2 separate regions of the Homo sapiens genome follow, and region 1 is reported to be linked to region 2. Evidence: microRNA targets listed by miRTarBase, many of them from high-throughput screens and not tested one by one. Region 2 holds a microRNA gene; the other region holds the end of a gene's coding sequence.

Region 1 (5,226 bases), not on the chromosome of region 2:
TGCCTATCAGACATGCCTGTAGACGGACTGTCTCCAGCGAGTATCACTAGGTAGGTTACATAGCAGAATAGCCAAACATGCTAAAAATGGCAATGCAGGAAATACTTGAAGAGAAATTTTTATATTGGGAATATAAAAATTTTGCAATTAAACATAAAGATGCTTAAGTTCCTTACATGGCAAAATTTTAGATCCTTTAAAAAAATTTTACCAGCTTTAATGAAATATACAGTGGAAGTTAATATCCATCTGTATTGCAATTATATACCTCTTGTCCAAAAAAGCAGCTTAAAGATAACTTTCAAAAGTTTCCCAACAATTAATAATTTATTGTATATTTCAAAACAGCTAAAAGAGCAGCTTTGGAATGTTCTTTTAGAAATGATCATTGTTTGAGGTGATGGATATTCCAGTTATTCTGATGTGATCATTATATATTGTATGCACATATCAATATCACATGCTCGGTAAGTACATACAACTATTATGTATCCACTGAAAAAATGTCTAACAAGACTTCTAAAGTGGTTGAATCCCAATTTGGGACAACCAGGGTAGATTTGCTTACATGCACTTAGTGAATGGTTGGTTGGTTTTTTTTTTTTTTGAGACTGAGTCTTGCTTTGTCGGTCAGGCTGTAGTGCAGTGGCGCGATCTCGGCTCACGGCAACCTCTGCCTCCTGGCTTTAAGCCTCCCGAGTAGCTGGGATTACAGGTGTTGTGCGCCACCACACTCAGCTGATTTTTGTTAGTAGAGACAGGGTTTCACCATGTTGGCCAGGCTGGTTTCAAACTCCTGACCTCAAGTGATCCACCTGCCTCGGCCTCCCAAAGTGCTGGGATTACAGGTGTGAGCCACCACGCCTGGCAGTTTTTAGCATATATAACATACATATGTTAAGCAATTCCTCAATTCAAGACGATGTATTAAAATGATCTTAAAAAGAAAGACTTGGCTAGGCGCAGTGGCTCACGCCTGTAATCCCAGCACTTTGGGAGGCTGAGGTGAGTGGATCACCTGAGGTCAGGAGTTCAAGACCAGCCTGGTGAACATGGTGAAACCCCGTCTCTACAAAAAATACAAAAATTAGCCGGGCATGGTGGCATGCGCCTGTAATCCCAGCTACTCGGGAGGCTGAGGCAGGAGAATCGCTCTAACCCGGGAGGTAGAGGTTGCAGTGAGCTGAGATCGTGCCACTTCACTCCAGCCTGGGCAACACAGACTCTGTCTCAAAAAAAAAAAAAGACTTGACAACTATAGCCGAGTCTCATGACCCAGGAATTCTAATAGTAAAGATTTTGTAAAATTGATTATTTTTATTATTTTTGTGACAGGGTTTCACTCTGCCACCCAGGCTGGAGTGCGGTAGTGCAATCACAGCTCAAAGCAGCCTCGACCTCCCGGGCTCAAGCACAGATTTTGTAAAACTGATTCTTTATACTGGATCTCTGAAAGAGATAGTTGTGCTTTCAGCCAGGAAATGCTAATACTAAACTTAATCAGCTGGCTCAAGAGTATGTACTTAACTGTGCCAGAAATGAAAAGCAAATTCAATAATAGGCTAGCTACAAAAATTAGAGTAGTATTTTATTTATTTATTTGACAGGGTCTCACTCTGTTGCCCAGGCTGTGCAGTGCTGCGATTATGACTTACTGCAGTCTCGACCTCCTGGGATCAAGCCATCTTTCTAACTCAGCCTCCTTAGTAGCTAGGACCACAGGCACATGCCACCATGCCCGGCCAATTAAAAAAAAAAAATTTTTTTTTTTTCTAGAGATGACATCTGTGTTGCCCAGGTTGGTCTTGAACTTCGGAGGCCAAGTGATCCTCCCACTTTGGGCTCTCAAAGTGCTGGAATTACAGTTGTGAGCCACCGCACTTGGCCTATTTTAATATTAATCATCTTAAAACTGCTTTACATTTTCATATTGGCGAACCTAAAAAACGTTTGCCATTGCAATTCATGAATATCTCATGTTTGTTTGAGAAGAAAAGTCAAAGGAACAAGACCTTTAGGAGTTACTGGCTCTCCTCCATACTCTCCATAACTGTTTTGTTACTGCAGTTGCCAACATAGGATACTTTTGTTCCTAGAAGGCTGGGCTACACCAAAGATTAAAAGCACATTTCCTACAAGTGGAGTAGAAGCTAGTTTTAATTTCGTCTTCCTTTCAGTCCACTTAAGATAACAGTTGTGGCCCCTTTGGGCCCTCATATCTCCAGCCCTCTAGGTAAAACAGGAGGGAAGCTGGACTACATTGTCAGGCACTTCAAATGCACCAAAGTTCTGAAAAGGGGAAATCCTGACCATTACTACCAGTTTGTTTCCCACTTTTCAATCAATGACATATTGCTCTCTCACACAATTCTGTGGGAGCATTTAAACCATATCAATAAATTGAAAAAGCACATAGCATCAATCCAACCAAAAGATATTTGCATGGTAAACGTGATGCACTGATATAAACTCTATGTTATCATGTGGAGAAAAAAGTTCACAGAGTAGTGTTGATAGTATTCCTTTCGTGTAATTTTAGAGGATATATATGCTATTGTGTGCATAGAAACTCCTAAAAAGATACGTAAGAAACTTAACAGTAATCACCCATTTTTTTGCAGGTGTATAGCTTTTCTTTCTCATTATATAATTTCCTAACAATTTATATTTTCTAACCCTTAGGTATATTGCATTCATTAATTTATTTTTATGTCAAGGATTATCAGGATGGTAAGATCCTGGACCATTTTTGTTTGCTTCTTTATACTTCTCAGGATAAAATAACCTAAATGTTACTTACCACCACCAGGAAGATTTATGTGACTACATTAAAACTTTATTCAACAAAATACCATAAAGTAAAAAGAAAAGTCACAAGATAGACTAGAAGATATTTGCAACATATAAAACTGACAAATGATTGATGTCTAGAATAAAAGAACTCCTAAAAATTATTCAGAGAAAAATAATTCAATACAAAGTTGAGCACAGGATATGAACAGGTTCTTCACAATAAAATGTCCATTAGAATGAAGGATTTAACGAGAATTGAGGAAAATGCAAACTAAAGTCATAATAAAACACCATTCCATACTCATGTAATTCACAAAAACTCACATTTACTTTGAAGAGCAATTTGGCAATGTCTATAAGGCTAAATGTGTTTATTCTGTGATACGTCTTAGGTAACACGCAGTGAGCCCAATGCAGAAGAATGTTCCACTACAGTGTTATAATACAGAAACTGGCAACAACTTCATGCCTTCAACTGGAGAACAGATAAATTATGGTAGTTCCCGTAATTGAATTCTGCTACACAGGACTAAAATTAATGAACGAGAGCTTCAGATATAATTATACAATAATGAGTGAAAAAAGCTGTAGAATGAGCAAGTATGAGGCTTAAAAATATATAAAACAGTACTAAAGAGTAGATGGTTTAGGTTATACACAGTGAAAGTACAACAACACAGGAATGATAAACATCAAATTGTGGATAATTGTTACCTCTGGAGGGGAGGAATGGCAATGTGATCTCGAAGTGGCAAAATGTTAAGATTTGACAAAAGTAGGTGCTGAGAACTTGGATATTCAGTATGTAGTTCACTATACTAGAAATAGTACAGTCACAACCAACACATACATACACCTATTTAAGCCCAGAATGCTGTTTCAATAATACATTTTAGTGCCCCCTGAAGGGCAGATGCCATCCTAGGAATTTGGGGTACAGGTATGAACAAGGCACAGTACCTCCCTTCAAGATAATATCACAGAAGCAGACTTGGGTCCTGATTAACTTTGTCACTGATGGCTAGGATCTGTTCTTTAATCAACGGGGACTGAGACCCTTAAAAGTTCAACGTTATGTTTCTGAGGTTTCAGACACCCACCACTGCCCTGCTTCCTTTCCCTTTCCCTTGCAGAATGAAGATAATGGGCAGACAAACCGTGACAATGATGACAGCATAAAACAAGACAATTTCCACACAAATGTAGAAATTACTTTTATTATGTTAAAATATTCCTTAATAAACTAGCAATTATTTATGTGGAGGAGCATCCAGAAAACAGGTTCATGACTGAATTATCCTTGTCCTTGATTATAGAGATTCATGAATGACACACATAACCCTATTTTCTGGAGTAGCTGTGAAGCTCTACGAGGCTGTGAGGTTGGAGGCGCTTCTCCCTGCCTGTTAAGCTGCTCCTATCACATCACGACAGGATGGACATTATTTTTCTCTTTTGAATTAAATCTTTACAACAGTTCGAATGCTGTAAAAGGAAGCAACATACTAAGTTTTAAATGATACCTTTAAGACAACTAAAATTGTGTTTTTCGACTCTCCATCCCCTCAAACTCAACATCATTATTACATTCTATGATATATAAAGAGAAAGCCTACCTCTTTCCAGAATGCATCAGTTCAAAGGCTTTGTTGATTTCATCAAAAGACAGATTGTGAGTCACAAATTCATCAACTTTTATCTTTTTGGACATATATTCAGACACCAACTTTGGGACACTTTCTACACTCTTCCATCCTAAAAGAAATCACACATTAATTTATTCAACAAATTTCTGCAGTATGCTTGTTACTTAGCTGAGGACAAAAGGCATTTAAAAGAATGAATTTTTTGATGAGTTAAAGAGTAATGAGAAACTCCAAAATAGCATGGAGATGAAGAATTTGACCAACACCTTTCAGTGAAGAAGTAAATACTTTTGAAATTTCCCTTCCTCTGTATTAAGATTTACTAAAACCTCATTAAAGTTTTGGCCAATTGAGACTTTTAAACTACCCAGGACAGAACTCTGGAAGTCTCAACAACAAGCTTATTTAGGTCCACATCAGCAAAGATTTCTATAATCATGATATTCAAGGAAGAAAAAAACTAATACAGGACTTTATTTCCTTGGTTTTAAATTTAACAATGAAATAGGGATAGCATATCAGAACAGAAAACTATGAAACTGAAAAATGAAGTAGAACTCTTTAGCTAAATGCTAAGTTTGTTCGTTTGTTTTTGAGACGGAGTCTCGCTCTATCGCCTAGGCTGGAGTACAGTTGCGTGATCTCAGCTCATTGCAAGCTCTGCCTCCCAGGTTCACGCCATTCTCCTGCCTCAGCCTCCCGGGTAGCTGGGACTACAGGCGCCTGCCACCACGCCCAGCTAATTTTTTGTATTTTTAGTAAAGATGGGGTTTCACCATGTTACCCA
Region 2 (5,501 bases):
TTTTGAGCCAAGTGTTCACTCGAGTTCCAGCACAGGGACACACAGTCCCGATGGGAGCATCCAAAACGGAATCTACGATGGTGAAGAATATACATTGTCGCACACACAAACATTCTCCAGGATAGACCACAGGCTGGGCGGTAAAAACTCCTCAATAAAATTTGAATAGAAATACACAAGTATGGCTGGGGTGCGGTGGCTCACACCTCTAATCCCAGCACTTTAGGGGCTGAGGCGGGAGGATCACCTGAGCTCAGGAGTTAGAGGCCAGCCCCGGCAACATGGTGTAACCCCATATGTACAAAAAATACAAAAGTTAGCCAGGTGTGCTGGTGCATGCCTGTAGACACTAATTCAGCAGGTTTAGGTGGGGGGCGGAGGTTGCAGTGAGTTGAGATCACACCACTACACTCCAGCCTGGGCGATAGAGCCAGACCTTGTCTCAGAAATAACCAAACAAACACACACACACACACACACACACACACACACACACACACAGAAACAAAGAAAAATACCCAAGGTGATATCAGGGTATTCTCTGTATTTAAACAGTATTTTGTGTGTATACGATTATATTATATATATGATGAAATACACATCATATTTTTGAGACCCTGTCTCAAAGAATGTTCCATATATTATATGCTCACAGGAAGGATAATTCCTACATGAGTGCTTGCTTTGGCAGTGCACATAAAAAAAATTGGAATGACAGAGATTACCCTGGCCCCTGCACAAAGGTGACATCCAAATTAATGATGTTCCTGTATTTATGTATTTATTTTTATTTATTGATTTTATGTCATTTTTATTATTTATTTATTTTTGAGACACAATCTTGCTCTGTGGCCCAGGCTGAAGTGCAATGGTGTGATTTCAGCTCACTGAAATCTCCTCCTCCTGGGTTCAAGCTATTCTCCTGCCTCAGCCTCTGGGTAGCCGGAATTACAGATGTGTACCACTGCACCCAGATAATTTTTGTATTTTTAGTAGAGACGAGGTTTTGCCATGTTGGCCCTGTTGGTCTTGAACTCCTGACCTCAGGTAATTCCTGTCTTGGCCTCCCGAAATGCTGGGATTACAGATGTGCACTACCACACCCCGCCTTTTTTTTTTTTTTTTTTTTTTTGAGACGGAGTCTTGCTCTGTCACCCAGGCTGGAGTGCAGTGGTGCGATCTCAGCTAACTGCAAGCTCCGCCTCCCGGGCTCAGGCCATTCTCCTGCCTCAGCCTTCTGAGTAGCTAGGAGTACAGGCGCACACCATCACGTCTGGCTAATTTTTTTTTTTTTTTTGTATTTTTACTAGAGACAGGGTTTCACCGTGTTAGCCAGGATGGTCTCAGTCTCCTGACCTTGTGATCCACCCACCTCGGCCTCCCAAAGTGCTGGGATTACAGGCGTGAGCCACCGCGCCCGGCCCACACCCAGCCTATTTTTTACTTTTTTGAGACTGAGTCTCACTCTGTTGCCCAGGCTGGAGTGCAGTGGCTCAATCTCAGCTCACTGAAAGCTCAGCCTCCTGGCTTCAAGTGATTCTCCTGCCTCAGCCTCCTGAGTAGCTGGGATTGCAGGGGTGCACCACCACCCCGTCTGGCTAATATCTATATTTTTAGTTCAGACGAGGTTTCATCATGTTGGCGAGGCTGGTCTCAAACAACTGACCTCAGGTGATCCTCCTATCTCAGCCTCCCAAAGTGCTGGAATTACAGGCGGGAGCCACCGTACCCAGACTAGTCCCATCATTAAAATTAGGGAAAAAACAAAGATGCCCACACCTGAACAGCAAATCATTTGTTGTTCAAGGACATCTCAGATACATTGTTTGTCTAAAATACAAGTTTAACTGAGGGCCCGGTGTGAACCAAATAATGGTTCTTACATTCTTCTTGTCTGTGCATGGGTTAATATTCACATGTAGTCCCATCTAGCAAGGACTGCGGGGGGCAGAGGCAGGAGGATCTAAGCCCACTTTAGCCAGGGTGGCATAGTGAGACCCCCGTCTCATGCATTTATTTCCTGGTCACGCACCCAAGATTTCAGCTTCATTTCCCCAATAAACACTGAAGCCCCATGCACTCCACCTCCGTGCTCTTGCTCATCCCATCTGCAGGGACACTGAGGTCCCTTCAACTCCACCTGACCCCACGTGAGGTTCTATACCAGTGCCAGAAAAATTTCGATAAAGTAAGAGGTGTTGATGGCCACGCACCATGGCTCATGCCTTTGGGAGGCCGAGGCGAGCAGCTCACGTGAGTTCAGAGGTTTGAGACCAGCCTGGTCAACATGGTGAAACCCCGTCTTTACTTGAAAAAAAAAAAAAAAAAAAAAAAATTCAGGCCGGGCATGTTGGCTCACACCTGTAATCCCAGCACTTTGGGAGACTGAGGCAGGTGAATCATTTGAGGTCAGGAGTTCGAGACCAGCCTGACCAACATGGGGAAGCCCCATATCTACTAAAAATACAAAATTAGCCAGGTGTGGTGGCACATGCCTGTAATCCTAGCTACTCAGGAGGCTGAGGCAGGAGAATCACTTGAACCCAGGAGGCTGAGGTTGTATGGGCCGAGATCATGTCATTGCCCTCCAGCCTGGGCAACAAGAGTGAAACTCCATCTCTCTCTCTCTCTTTCTCTCTAACACACATACACACACATACGCACACATTCGAAAAGCAGTCAGGCGTGGTGGTAAGCGCCTGTAATTCCAGCTACTCAGGAGGCTGAGGCAGGAGAATTGCTTGAACCTGAGAGACAGAGGTTGGAGTCAGCCGGGATCGTGCCATGGCCCTCCAGACTTGGCAACAGCAAGACTCCACCTAAAAAATAAATAAATGAATGAATAAAAAAGAAAAATACAAATATTAGCTGGGCATGATGTCAGGTGCCTGTAATCCCAGGAAGCTGAGGCAGGAGAATCACTTGAACCCAGGAGGTGGAGGGTGCAGTGAGCTGAGATTGCACCACTGCACTCCAGCCTGAGTCACAGAGCAAGACTCTGTCCCAAAAAGGACCATTTGAGCCCAAGAGACCTAGGTTGGAAGTGCCTCTGTACTCCAGCCTGGGCCACAGAGACCCTGTCTTAGAAAACAAAAAAAACCCAGAACCCCAACATCATCCAAGTCTGATGATAAGCATGCAAATATATTACCAACATCAGCATCAACTTCAACACTGCTTTTCCCAAACAGTAACTCTAAAGGGAAGCACTTTGTTTTTTCTCAGACAACAAACAGAAAGTGCTTCCTCTAGAGGGTCACAGCATGGGATCTTCTTGCTCCAGCACTCTGGGTTTCTTGTTGGAATTTTCCTTGACCAGGTTAAAATACACACAAAATAAAGATGCATTTATTGGCCCTGTTTGCATATTTTCTGGAATCCAGAACATAAACCCCTAAAAGGACCATCTCCAGTTCCTTGCTTCAAAGGCTCAGCAGGTTAGCCTTGTTCACCAAGGGGCAACCCTCCTGAGTTTTGTCCCCAAAGAGAAAAAGCAAAGCCTACTACACATACCTTATATTTAACCAAGAGATTAGGGCAGAATTTCCAGAGAACAGCAATGGATTTTGAGCCAAGTGTTCAGCTGAGTTCCAGGACAGGGGCACACAGTCCCGATGGAAGCATCCAAAATGGAATCTACAATGTTGAAGAATATACATTGTCTCACACACAAACATCCTCCAAGATAGACCACAGTCTAGGCTGACTCTACAGGACCATTTGAGATTAGGGGTGATGGCTCACAGCTGTAATCCCAGTACTTTGGGAGGCCAAGGCTGGTGGATCACCTGAGGTCAGGAGTTTGAGACCAGCCTGCCCAACATGGTGAAACCCCATCTCTACTGAAAACACAAAAATTAGCTGGGTGGGGTGGTAGGCACCTGTAATTCCAGCTATCTGGGAGGCTGAGGCAGGAGAATCACTTGAACCCGGGAGGCCGAGGTTGCGGTGAGCCGAGATCGCGCTATTGCCCTCCAGCCTGGGCAACAAGAGCGAAACTCCGCCTCAAAAAAAAAAAACAAAAAAACAATAATAATTAGCAAGACCTGATGGCAGGCAACTGAATTCCCAATGATTCGGCAGGCTGAGGTGGTAGAAACACTGGAACCTGAGAGGTGGAGTTTCCGGTCAACAGAGATTCTGCTACTGCACTCCCAGTGAAACCAGAGTGGGTCTCAAAAAATCAAAAAATAAAAAGAGGACCACTTGAGCCCAAGAGATCTCGGTTGGAGGTGCCACCCACTCTAGTCTGGGCAACAGAGACACTGTCTTGGAAAAAAAAAACAAAACAAACAGAACCCCAACATCATGCACGTCTGATGATAAGCACGCTCTGCAAATGTGTTACCAAGATCAGCAGCATCTTCAACGTTGATTTTCTCAAACAGTAACACTCTAAAAGGATGCACGATCTTTTCTTAGACAACAGACAGTGCTTCCATCTAGAGGGTCACTGCCTGAGATCTTCTTGCTCCAGTACTCTGGGTTATTTTTTATGTATTTATGTATTTATTTATTTATGTATTTATTTTTTGAGATGGAGTCGCCCAGGCTGCAGTGCAATGGTGTGATTTTAGCTCACTGCAATCTCCTTCTCACGGGTTCAAGAGATTCTCCTGCTGCCGCCTCCCACGTAGCTGAGACTACAGGTGTGTACCACCACGCCTAGCTATATTTTGCATTTTTAGTAGAGAGGAGGTTTTGTCTTGATGGCGGGGCTGCTCTTGAACTCTGACCTGAGGTGATCCACCCGTCTCGACCTCCCAAAGTGCTGGGATTACAAGCGTGTGCCACCGCACCCGGCCTATTTTTTATTTTTTTGAGATTGAGTCTCACTGTTGCCTAGGCTGGAGTTCAGTGGTGCGATCTCAGCTCACTGAGAGCTCAGCTTCCCGGCTTCCTGTGATTCTCCTGCCTCAGCCTCCTGAGTAGCTGGGATTACAGGCGTGTACCACCACCACACTGGGCTAAGTTTTGTATTTTTAGTAGAGATGGGGATTCACCATGTTGGCCAGGCTGGTCTCAAACAACTGACCTCAGGTGATCCTCCTGTCTTGGCCTCCCAAAATGATGGAATCACAGGTGTGAGCCGTGGTACCCAGCCTTGTCCTATACTTAAAATTAGGAACAAAAAAAGATGCCCACACCTAAACAGCAAATCATTTGTTGTTCAAGTACATCTCAAATACATTGTTTATCTGAAATAGAAATTTAAGTGGGGGTGGGGCATGAATCAAAGAACAGTCCTTACTTTCCTCTTCCTGTACATGAGTTAATATTCACATGTAGTCCCAGCTACTAAGGACTGGGGAGGGCCAGAGGCAGGAGGATCTAAGCCCACTTTAGCTTGGGCGGCATAGTGAGACGCCCGTCTCGTTGCATATACGACCTGGTCATGCACCCAAGATTTCAGCTTCATTTCCCCAATGAAAACTCAAACCCCATGCACTCCACCTCCATGCTCTTGCTGAGCAGTACACATCCCATCTGCAAGGGACATT

The links. The annotated mature microRNA hsa-miR-520g-5p reads UCUAGAGGAAGCACUUUCUGUUU and lies in region 2 at 3,231-3,253, opposite strand. An mRNA with a match to its seed (bases 2 to 7 or 8) in the 3' UTR can be bound and repressed. Matches are read on the target gene's strand: a 7mer-m8 pairs with bases 2 to 8, a 7mer-A1 pairs with bases 2 to 7 and ends in A, and an 8mer does both.
Region 1: the mRNA of ADH5 is a reported target of hsa-miR-520g-5p. The part of its 3' UTR that is shown has no 7-base or 8-base seed match.

Annotation. Positions count from the first base shown.
Region 1 is chr4:99,068,164-99,073,389 of GRCh38, forward strand. ADH5 (alcohol dehydrogenase 5 (class III), chi polypeptide) reads right to left here. Exons shown (of 9, transcript NM_000671.4): 8 at 4,410-4,548; 9 at 2,815-4,278. The coding sequence ends at 4,254. Among named protein-coding and RNA genes, the nearest start is that of ADH5, 18 kb to the right of the region's middle.
Region 2 is chr19:53,740,280-53,745,780 of GRCh38, reverse strand. It overlaps MIR520H (microRNA 520h), which reads right to left and starts at 3,269; the gene lies at 3,182-3,269. MIR517C (microRNA 517c) reads right to left here and starts at 4,468; the gene lies at 4,374-4,468. LOC124904765 (a long non-coding RNA gene) reads right to left here. Exons shown (of 6, transcript XR_007067334.1): 2 at 3,514-3,636. It also overlaps the pseudogene RNU6-982P.